Linked DNA regions of Homo sapiens: region 1 is linked to region 2. A link means that fine-mapping ties the variant in region 2 to the expression of a gene that starts in the linked region. Tissue or cell type: whole blood. Region 2 holds a variant in brackets; the other region holds the start of a gene. All regions are shown on one strand. Distances are between the middles of the regions. Region 1 holds the start of NDUFA12 (NADH:ubiquinone oxidoreductase subunit A12). Region 2 has its middle 37 kb from the start of NDUFA12.

Evidence for each region. PIP is the estimated chance that this variant, and not a neighbour inherited with it, causes the effect.
Region 1: it holds the start of NDUFA12, and the variant in region 2 is fine-mapped to the expression of NDUFA12 in whole blood (INTERVAL, PIP above 0.99).

What each region holds. Positions count from the first base shown.
Region 1 is chr12:95,000,719-95,006,099 of GRCh38, forward strand. It overlaps NDUFA12 (NADH:ubiquinone oxidoreductase subunit A12), which reads right to left and starts at 2,979. Exons shown (of 4, transcript NM_018838.5): 1 at 2,877-2,979; 2 at 2,021-2,103. The coding sequence starts at 2,962. RefSeq lists enhancers at 2,610-3,237, 2,702-3,101.
Region 2 is chr12:94,964,112-94,969,492 of GRCh38, forward strand. No RefSeq gene overlaps it. Among named protein-coding and RNA genes, the nearest start is that of NDUFA12, 37 kb to the right of the region's middle. The variant G/A (reference allele first, on the strand shown) is at 3,164.

The DNA of each region.
Region 1 (5,381 bases), 37 kb after region 2:
TCCTTCCAAAATTTAACATGCACACAAAAAGCATGTATTTTCTCCTTTTAAGGATACCAAACATTGTTCTGCTACTGGAATTTTTTTATATTACACACATCTTTGACATCTCTCTATATTAAATTTATAGGTTTATATCATTCTTAACAACAACGTATTCCAAAACACGTATACATATGTAACAAACCTGCACGTTGTGCACATGTACCCTAGAACTTAAAATAAAAAAACAACAACAAACTATTCTAAAAAATGTTTAATTCATCAGTATCCAACTTACGCACACTAATGTTGCTTTTAAAATTTACTAGCACGGTGGCTCATGCCCGTGATCCCAGCACTTTGGGAGGCTGAGACAAGAGGATGGCTTAAGCCCAGGAGTTCAAGACCAGCCTGGGGAACAAAGTGAGACCCCATCTCTTTAAAAAAATTAAAAAATTAACCAGGTGTGGTGGTGCATGACTGTGGTCCCAGCTACATAGGAGGCTGAGGCAGGAGGAAGGCTAGAACCCAGGAGGTCACGGCTGCAGGGAGTCAAGATCACACCACTGCCTCCAGCCTAGGCGACAGTGAGACCCTGTCTCAAAATAACAACAACAAAAACAAACAAAAATGCTGTGGCCAGGCACAGTGACTCACATCTGTAATTCCAGCACTTTGGGAGGCTGAGGTGGGAGGATCACCTGAGCCCAGGAATTCAAGACCAGCCTAAGAAACATAGCAAGACCTCGTCTCTCCAAAAAAAAATTTTTTTAAACAATTAGCCAGGCATGGTGACACATGCCTGTAATCCCAGCTACTTGGGTGGCTGAGGTAGGAGGACAGCTTGAGCCCAGAAAGTTGAGGCTGTAGTGAGCCATGATCGAGTCACTGCACTCTAGACTGGGTGACAGAGCGAGACCCTGTCTCAACATTAAATAAATAAATAAATTTTTAAAATATAATAAAACAATGCTGTGATGTATGTTGGTTTGCAAGAATATTTGTAGAATTAATTCTTTTTTGAGATAAGAGTCTCGCTCTGTTGCCAGACTGGAGTAGAGTGGCGGGATCTGGGCTCACTGCAACTTCCGACTCCCTGGTTCAAGCGATTCTCCTGCTTCAGCCTCTCAGGTAGCTGGGATTACAGGCACACGCCACCACATCCAGCTAATTTTTGTATTTTTAGTAGCGACTGGGTTTCACCACGTTGGGCAGGATGCTCTCGATCTCCTGACCTCGTGATCCGCCCGCCTCCGCCTCCCAAAGTGCTGGGATTACAGGCGTGAGCCACCGCGCCCAGCCGAATTAATTGTTAAAAGTGGAAGTGCTGAGACAAAGGATATGTGCAATGTAAATTTTTACAAATGTTACCAAATTATCCCTCCAAAAAGACTGCATTAACCTACATATTTATATGGTTTTGCCCACATTGGGATTTATCAGCTTGAAAAATACTCAAGGCTGGACGCAGTGGCTCACGCCTGTAATCCCAGCACTTTGGGGGGCCAAGGCGGGTGGATCACGAGGTCAGGAGTTCAAGACCAGCCTGGCCAATATGGTGAAACCCCATCTCTACTAAAAAATACAAAAATTAGCCGGCCATGGTGGCGCCCGCCTGTGGTCCCAACTACTCAGGCAGGCTGAGGCAGGAGAATCGCTGGAACCCAGGAGGTGGAGGTTGCAGTGAGCCGAGATCGCGCTACTGCACTCCAGCCTGGCCGACAGAGACTCCATCTCAAAAAAAAAAAAAAAAAAAAAAAAAAAGAACAAAAACACTTCAAAATTTGATAGGTGAAAAATATATAACACTGTTTTTAAAGTTGCATTTCTGTTGTTACAAGTGAGAATGAGCATTTTTCCATACCTTCATTGGCTGTTTACTTTTCTTTTTTCTGTAAATTATCTTTTTTCATTTTCTATTGAGTTTTTCATCCTTTTCCAGGTGTTTTGTAAAAGCTCATTGCATAATATGGAAAATAGACTCAAATCAAATCCCAATCCCAATCCAATTATTCATACTAAAAAATACTGCACTCACCAAAAAATTGCTTGTTGTCTTCATAGTATTTGTTTCCATATTTGTCTTCCCCCACTAATGTACCAACCTTCGCATCATTTGTCCTGTGAATACCCAAAAGAAAACAGACATTTTAGAATGATTCTTAGTTCAAAACATAAACGGAAATAAAGTGAGAGTAACAACTTTCAGACACAAGGGCTGCTGCATCAACTAGCAAAATGAAGAAGTGCTGGGGATGGGAAAAGATGAATTGACAACTGATGTGCTCAAATTACACTAAAAATATAAATGTAGTCTCTTCAGATTACAGGACTACTTGTATCTACTATCCCTCAGCCAGGAGGCACTGGAATTAGCAAAACCTTTAGGAAATCAAAAAGCCAAAGTATTTCATCTTCTTACAATGATACGAAGGTCTCCAGGCTCTTTCATTCCACTCTGGGTCTCCATTTAGGTTTCTGCGAAACTATGCTGCTCGTGGGATCAGTGAATGTCAGGAAGAGAAGGGACCATCATTATTACCTTCAACGCCTTACAGACAAGGAACTGTACGGCAGTGCAGGGAAAAAAACTTTACCAGGGTCACTGAGTTAATGTCTTGTAATCCTCATTACTCTCCAGGGCGTGGGAAAAGAGGGGAGCCCAGATGCCCTTGCCTCCGAGTCACAGCTCTGACTCTACAGATAGCTTCGGTCTTGTATCGGGGATATATGGGACAGAGACCAGCCTGGGGGTGGCAAGGCAGAGATTGGGGCGGTTGTCCTTGACAAGAGCTGTGGATTCTCCAAGGTGACCCGAGCCTGGGACCCCTTCCAAGAAATCAGCCAGCGAAAGTCCAGCCCCAGAGGCCAAGAGCATGGCTCTGGCCGCCTACCTGAAAAAAACCCGTAGATAGCCTCGGAGACCGCCGTGGCCGGTGATCTGCTGCAGCCCGCGTTTCAGGACCTGCACTAACTCCATCTTGCCTCGCTGGCCCCGCCTCCCGGGTGCGCCGAGCAAAACCCACCGGATGGAAGCTGCCACTCAGCCGCAGGAAGCCCACGCCCAGAAGGTTCTCACGCGAACGCCAGACGTGGTGGCTCTGCGCGTGCGCAGAGCTAGGTCTTGCCTACGCGGTCATGTTCTGGCTTCCCAAGTAGGCAGAATTGGTTTCCCCTGGAAGCAAAGGTACCTTAAAATTTAGTTTTCAGAGGTTAAATCTAGAAGGCGGGCATATGCTGGAAAGCTCACCTACACGAGGCTTTCTCACACGGGGATTCCCCCTTTGGGAATTTCAGTTTCCTCATCTAAAAATAATTGGCTCTGGTGGGCGCGGTGGCTCACTGTTGTAATCCCAGCACTTTGGGAGGCCGGGTAGGGAGGATCGTTTGAGCCCAGGAGTTCGAGACCAGCCTCGCCAACACAGCGAGAATTCTGTCTCTACAAAAAAAAAAAAAAAATTAAAAATTAGCTGGATGTGGTGGCGCGTGCCCGTAGTCCCAGCTACTCGGTAGGCTGAGGCTTAGATGGGAGCATCGCTTGAGCCTAAAAAATTTCAATATTACTTCATTTGTTAACCACAATTCTTCTACAAAGAGAAACCTCCCTTCAACTATTTGGCTCCTGAGATACAATTAATGTAGGAAAGGCAGTATGGGTGCTTGATTCTCTTACTTTTTTTTTGTTTTTTAATTTTAGAGACAGGCTCTCTGTCACCCAGGCTGAAATACAGTGGTGTGATCATAGCTCACTGCAGCCTCAAACTCCTGTGCTCAAGCAGTCCTCCCATTTAAGTAAGTGCCACCACCCCTGGCTAATTTTTTTTTTTTTAGAGATGGGCATCTTGTTATGTTGCCCAGGTTGGTTTTGAACTCTGGCCTCAAGTGATCCTCCTGCCTCAGCCTCTCAAAATGCTGGGATTACAGGTGTAAGCCACCACACCCAGCCGATTCTTTCCCTTATGTGTGTTTTCAAAATAACAATTTAGTTCCCTAGCTTTTTTTTTTTTTTTTTGGTAGTGGTGGTTAAAAACACAAAATATAAAATTTACCATTTTAACCATTTTTAAGTGTACAGTAGTGTTAACCACATGCACATTGTTGCGCAACAGATCTCTAGAACTTATTCTTCTTGCAAAACAGAAACTTTATATCCATGGAACAACTTTTTCCTCTTTCTCCATCCCCTGCCAACCACCATTCTACTTCTGTTTCTAAGAGTTTAACTACTTTAGATACTTCATATAAGTAGAATCATGAGGTGTTTGTCTTTTAGGACCTGGCTTATTTCACTTAGCATGATATCCACAAGGCTCATCCATAGTGTAGTATATGACAGGATTTTCTTCTTTTTATAAATGTTGAATAATATTCCACTGTATGTATATGCCACCCAGTTACCTGTCCATAAACATTTCTGCTGATTCCGCCTCTTGGCTATTGTGAATAATGCTGCAGTGAACACGGGTGTGCAGATATCTCTAAGATCCTGTTTTCAGTTCTTTTGGATATATACCCAGAAGTGGATTGCTAGATCATATGGAAATTTTATTTTTTATTTTTATAGGAATCCCCATACTGTTTTCCATGGCAGCATCACCATTTTACATTACTAACAACAATGCACAAAGGTTCCAATTTCTCCACCTCCTCACCAACACTACATATTTTCTGTGTTTGTTTGTATGTTTGTTTGTTTGTTCTGAGACGGAGTCTAACTCTGTTGCCCAGGCTGGCGTGCAGCGGTGCGATCTCGGCTCACTGCAACCTCCCCTTCCCAAGTTCAAGCGATTCTCCTGCCTCAGCTTCCCGAGTAGCTGGGATTACAGGCGCCCACCACCACCCCCGGCTAATTTTTGTATTTTTAGTAGAGACGAGGTTTCACCATGTTGGCCAAGCTGGTCTTGAACTCCTGACCTCAGGTGATCCACCCGCCTTGGCCTCCCAAAGTGCTGGGATTACAGGCGTGAACCACCACGCCCAACCTGTGTTCATTTGTTTTTTACAGTGGGCATCCTAATGGATGATGAGGTGATACCTCATTGTGGTTTTGATTTGCATTTACCTGATTACTGATGTTAACCATGTTTTCATATGCTTGTTGGCCATTTGTATATCTTCTTTGGAGAAATGTTTATTCAAGTCCTTTGCCCATTTTTGAATCGGGTTTTTTGTTGTTGTTGTTGAGTTGTAGGCATTCTTTATGTATCGTGGATATTTTCTCCCGTTCCCTAGGTCATCTTTTCATTCCGTTGATTGTGTCCTTTGCTATGCAGAAGTTTATGTTTGATGTAGCCCCAATTGTCTATTTTTACTTTGTCTGTGCTTTTGGTATCATATCTGAGAAATCACTGCTAAATCCAATGTCATGAAGCTTCCCCCGTTGTCTTCTAGGAGTTTTA
Region 2 (5,381 bases):
AAATAGAGTAGACACACTTGCGGTGTGTACGATGAGATAAGTGCCAATTCTAGGATCCTAAAAGAAATCTCAACATCAAACTCAACGAGCAAATACAGACAAACAAGAAATGAGGGCAAGGCAGCCATTCCTCCGTCAAACGTAGGGGAGAAACTTTGCTTTAAGTGACCACAAGAGAAAATGTGAGAGTGAAATCTTAGTTTTTCACCAGTGGAAAATTAGTTAAGGGTTTTAATTTAGGGTTGTGGGGGCTGGGTGTGTGGAGACCGTAAGGGAGCTGGGACAAGCACAGCTGTGTGACAAATATTAATGGCTATCGCAATTCTCAAACTGAGAAATTCAGGTCAGCCTGTAGGGCAAGCTGCCTCTAAATGCAACAACCTTTTTATATGGCTGACTACTTCTTCCATGAGTAATTTTTTTATTTTTTCACTTAGCTCAAGTTGGAATTAATGGTTCTAGTGATTTGTGTTGCCTTAGATGAAATTCTTAACATTGCAATTTTATTAATCCTACCTGCAAAGAGAGAGCACTCGCGCCTGTAATCCCTGCACTTTGGGAGGGTGATTTCTCATTTCTCAAAACTGAGAAAATAGTTTTTCATGTAAGTTAATATTTAAATTTTCAAATTAGGGGCTGGGCACAGTGGCTCACGCCTGTAATCCCAGCACTTTGGGAGGCCGAGGCGGGTGGATCACGAGGTCAGGAGATTGAGACCATCCTGGCTAACACGGTGAAACCCCATCTCTACTAAAAATACAAAAAATTAGCCGGGCATGGTGGTGGGCGCCTGTAGTCCCAGCTACTCGGGAGGCTGAGGCAGGAGAATGGCTTGAACCTGGGAGGCGGAGCTTGCAGTGAGCCGAGATCGCGCCACTGCACTCCAGCCTGGGTGACAGAGCAAGACTCCGTCTCAAAAAAATACATAAATAAACAAATAAATTTCAAATTAGGATCCAGGTTTTCTTGCATGTAATTTTTCCATCCCCTTTGTATTACTTTGAAAAGAGTATCATACATCACCTAAAATTGTGAGGCTGATGCTTACCCTTATTTAGTGACATAAAAATGACTGCCAATTTTTTTTTTTTTAGCAATTTTATTGTGGCTCAAACTTCCAAGTCCAGGCTACATGCAGGCAAATCTGTAAATCTGACTTCTCTGCAACTGGAATCAGGTAGAGCCATCACTTACAGAAATTTTAAAGGCCCGGATATATCCTCAAATGTACATGCAGAGGTTTTATGGAATACATGTATCCATTTCAACACAAACTTTAAGTTTTTAAATAAAGCTATTTATTAGCTTATAGTAATAAATCCTGGCAAACACTACTGGTTCATAATATGCCAAGAGTTATGAATCAGAAGATTAATAATCAGGGCTACATCTAGTAAGAAAGGTGGCTGGCTGGGCATGGTGGCTCACGCCTGTAATCCTAGCACTTTGGGAGGCCAAGGCAGGTGGATCACCTGAAGTCAGGAGTTCGAGACCTACCTGGCCAACATGGAAAAACCCCATTTCTACTGAAAATACAAAATTAGCAGGGCATGGTGGCGGGTACTGGTAATCCCAGCTACTCAGGAGGCTGAGGCAGGAGAATCACTTGAACCCGGGAGGCAGAGGTTGCAATGAGCCAGGATAACGCCATTGCACTCCAGCCTGGATAACAGAGTGAGACTCTGTCAAAAAAAAAAGAAAGAGAGGGAAGGGAAGGGGAGGGGAGGAGAGGGGAGAGGAGAGGAGCAAGCAAACTTGGGCAACATAGGAAGACCTTGTCTCTATAAAAAATTAAAAAACTAGCTGGGCATGGTGGTGTATGCCTATAGTTCAAGCTACCTGGGAGGCTGAGGTGGGAGGACTACTTGAGCCCAGGAGGTCGAGGCTGCAGAGAGTCATGATTGCACCACTGCACTCCAGCCCGGGCAACAGAGTAAGAACCTGTGTCTGGGAAAAAAAAGAAAAAAAAAAAAAGGAAAGGAAAGGAGAGGGGAGGGGAGGGAAGGGAAGGGGAGGGGGGAAAAAAAAGAAAGAAAGGAAAGGAAAGGGGAAAAGGGAAAGGAAAGGAAAATGAAGAAAGAAAGGAAGATAGTACACAGCAGTAACAAATTCTATTACTAGAGGAGAAGTAATAAAGCCATAAGGATGCTGTATCAGTGAGGACATTCAGCTGCAAGTGAAAGAAGCATAAGTCAATACAGATTTGAAGTCAAGCTATAAGAAAATAGTTGGGGAAATTTACTGGTTCATTTACTGGTTCATGTCATTGAAGAGTGTAAGTGAATGTACTTCAGGCACATGTAGAACCAGGTTCTCAGACAGCAGACATCAGCCTGGAAAACAGCGTTTCTGGCCAGGCACGGTGGCTTACGCCTGTAATCCCAGCACTTTGAGAGGCTGAGGCGGGTGATCTCTTGAGGTCAGGAGTTGGAGACCAGCCCGGCCAACATGGCGAAACCCCGTCTTTACTAAAAATACAAAAATTAGCCAGCCATGGTGGCATGCATCTGTAATCCCAGCAACTCAGGAGGCTGAGGCAGGATAATCGCTTGAACCCAGGAGATGGAGGTTGCAGTGAGCCGAGATTGCGCCACTGCACTCCGGCCTGGGCAACAGAGTGAGACTCGGCCTAAAAAACAAAAAATATACACAGACATTAACTTCCTGGAGCCAGAGCTGATAAATATGGCTCCATTACTATGCTCTTATGATGTGTGCATTTCATACTATGGGCACTTGGCACCAGTGTATGAATTAACTTGTATTTGAGAAGAATGTTAGGAACAGGACATCTCCATTCATAGAAGGATGACTTGAAAGCGGGGATATAGACCGACAGGTCTTTGCAAGCTGATCACACAAGTGATTGCAAACCCTTGAAATGATCACCAATTTTTTGGAAACACAGCATGACATCATGGTAATTAGTGTTCTTTTTTTCCTGTAAAAATTGCTTAATGAAACTTTAGAAATTTCCTATGTATAACTATTTGCATGTTTAGATGTTATTTCCCACAAGAATTCTTACTTTCTGAAACTTCAGAATTTACTGTTCTGGGCTGCCGCTGTTTAATTTCAGTCACTATCTCACCTCCAACAAAAATTATTATTATTTTTTTTGAGACAGAGTGTCTCTCTGTGGCCCAGGCCAGAGTGCGGCAGC[G/A]TGATCTCAGCTCACTGCAGCCTCTGCCTCCCAGATTCAGGCGATTCTCCTACCTTAGCCTCCTGAGTAGCTGGCACTACAGGCATGTGCCGCCATGCATGGCTAATTTTTGTATTTTTAGTAGAGACGGGTTTTTGCCATGTTGGCCAGGCTAGTCTCAAACGCCTGACCTCAGATGATCTGCCTGCCTCAGCCTTCCAAAGTGCTGGGATTACAGGCGTGAGCCACTGCACCCTGCCCTAAATCTAATCAATACAGTTTTGCTTCATTATGTCTACATGTAGAGTGCTTTTGTAGGTGGACAGTGGCTGTTTAGTAAATGCTCAATACACAGATTCTTTACTGGAATAATTTTGTTCAGGCCTTTTCCCAAAAAGTAACAATAAGTACTATGAATAAAATAAAACAAGGAAATTCATACAAATAAACAATAATAGGAAGTTCCTGAGGAAGCTACTTTAGATTAGATGGACACAGAACATTCTGTTGAGGAGGTGATACTTGTAAAGTAAGATATGAATGATACCAAAAAAAGGAGCAACACAAAGATGTTAATATTCTAGGCAGAAGGAAGAGCAAGTGCAAAGACCTAAGACGAGAATGAATCCAGTCTTTGAAGATTAGACAGAGGCTTGTGTGGCTGACCTGTAGTGGGTGATGCAGGGAGAAATGAGAGATGATATCTGAGAGGTAGGTCAGTAAGGCACATCATAAACACAAGCAGGGACTCCCACAGGCAGTTCCACTGTCTTTTTTTTTTTGAGACGGGAGTTTCACTCTTGTTGCCCAGGCTGGAGTACAATGGCTCACTGCAACCTCCGCCTCCCGGATTCAAGTGATTCTCCTGTCTCAGCCTCCCAAGTAGCTGGGATTACAGGCGCATGCCACCACACCTGACTAATTTTTCTATTTTTAGTAGAGGCGGGGTTTCATCATATTGGTCAGGCTGGTCTCGAATTCCTGACCTCAGGTGATCCGCCTGCCTTGGCCCCCCAAACTGCTGGGATTACAGGTGTGAGCCACTGCACTAGGCCTCTTTTCTTTTCTGTGAAGTGAGTTTCTCCACCACGGACACTGTCCTACATATGACAAGGTAGAAAGCATTCTAATCCCATGAATGCTGATGTTGACCAAGGCATGATAGGCAAGGAAAACAGACCCAAATTCAGAATAAGTGCCTATTCCCACAAAAACAAATCATCTCTCCCTCCAATATGGAAGAAGTCCCGTGAAATGAACTTGCCGCATTGACGATACTGGGCTTAGATATGTGTTTTCTGTTGGGATCTTCAAGAAGTAGGCACTGAGACAAAGATTTGTTCCCAGAAGGTGATCTCAGTAATCATCTGGCTACTTTGTTCTAAATCTTTTTGGATTACAGCTCCAAGCCTCAAGGTTCATTTGCCAAGCTCCTCCCAAAACTTTTACACTAATCTTCCATGTTGCTTTTCTCCATCTCTGACTATCTAGCCAGTGACTGGTTACGGTTACAGATCCTCACCTCAGATCATGTTTCTCTCAAGTCAAAGTACATGATAAAAGACAGTGCTTGGAATTCTGCCTACAAATTGAGATTTGCCCTCTACTGTCCTTCAAGACCACCCCAAATATACACAGTACATTTCTAGCTGATAGTGCCTATTGTTCATGGTATCTGTAAGCCAGGTTTGGTTTTTTTCATTTTCAGTTAACTGGATAATAATGCTCCACAAGGGTAAAGGGACAGATTGGTAGGGGCGAGGTGTGGGAATAGAGTAGTTAAAGGCACAGGGTCGGGAGAAATCTGTTCAAAGGAAATGTGTCTTCATGGCCTGTCTGGTCCCACCTGCTAGGTGATGGAGTGCTGCTGGAAATGGTCAACTTTATGAGTAGATGGATTAAATAGCACCTGGTGTCCCATAGCCTCCAACATCCCCAGAAGCAAATTAGAACCGTTTCTCAAAAGGAGAATAGTAATCTTCCAGAAGGGGGTATGACCTTGCTCCAAAGTCCTGTGGGCTTCCATTGTGATTCTCCTGGAGAAATTTGTCTCTGACTTCAATAAGTCTCCCAATCAGCCAGATAGACTTTGAGAGGGCTGAGCAGCAGAGCTGCTTGGACTGCAGACTGGGCCACCTACAGGGACTATTTTTGCTCTGCCAGCTTTTCAGGTCACCAGGTAAATAAATAAGTGCAAAACACCTGTATGTTATATGCTGTCTCAAAAGTCCAGGGCTCA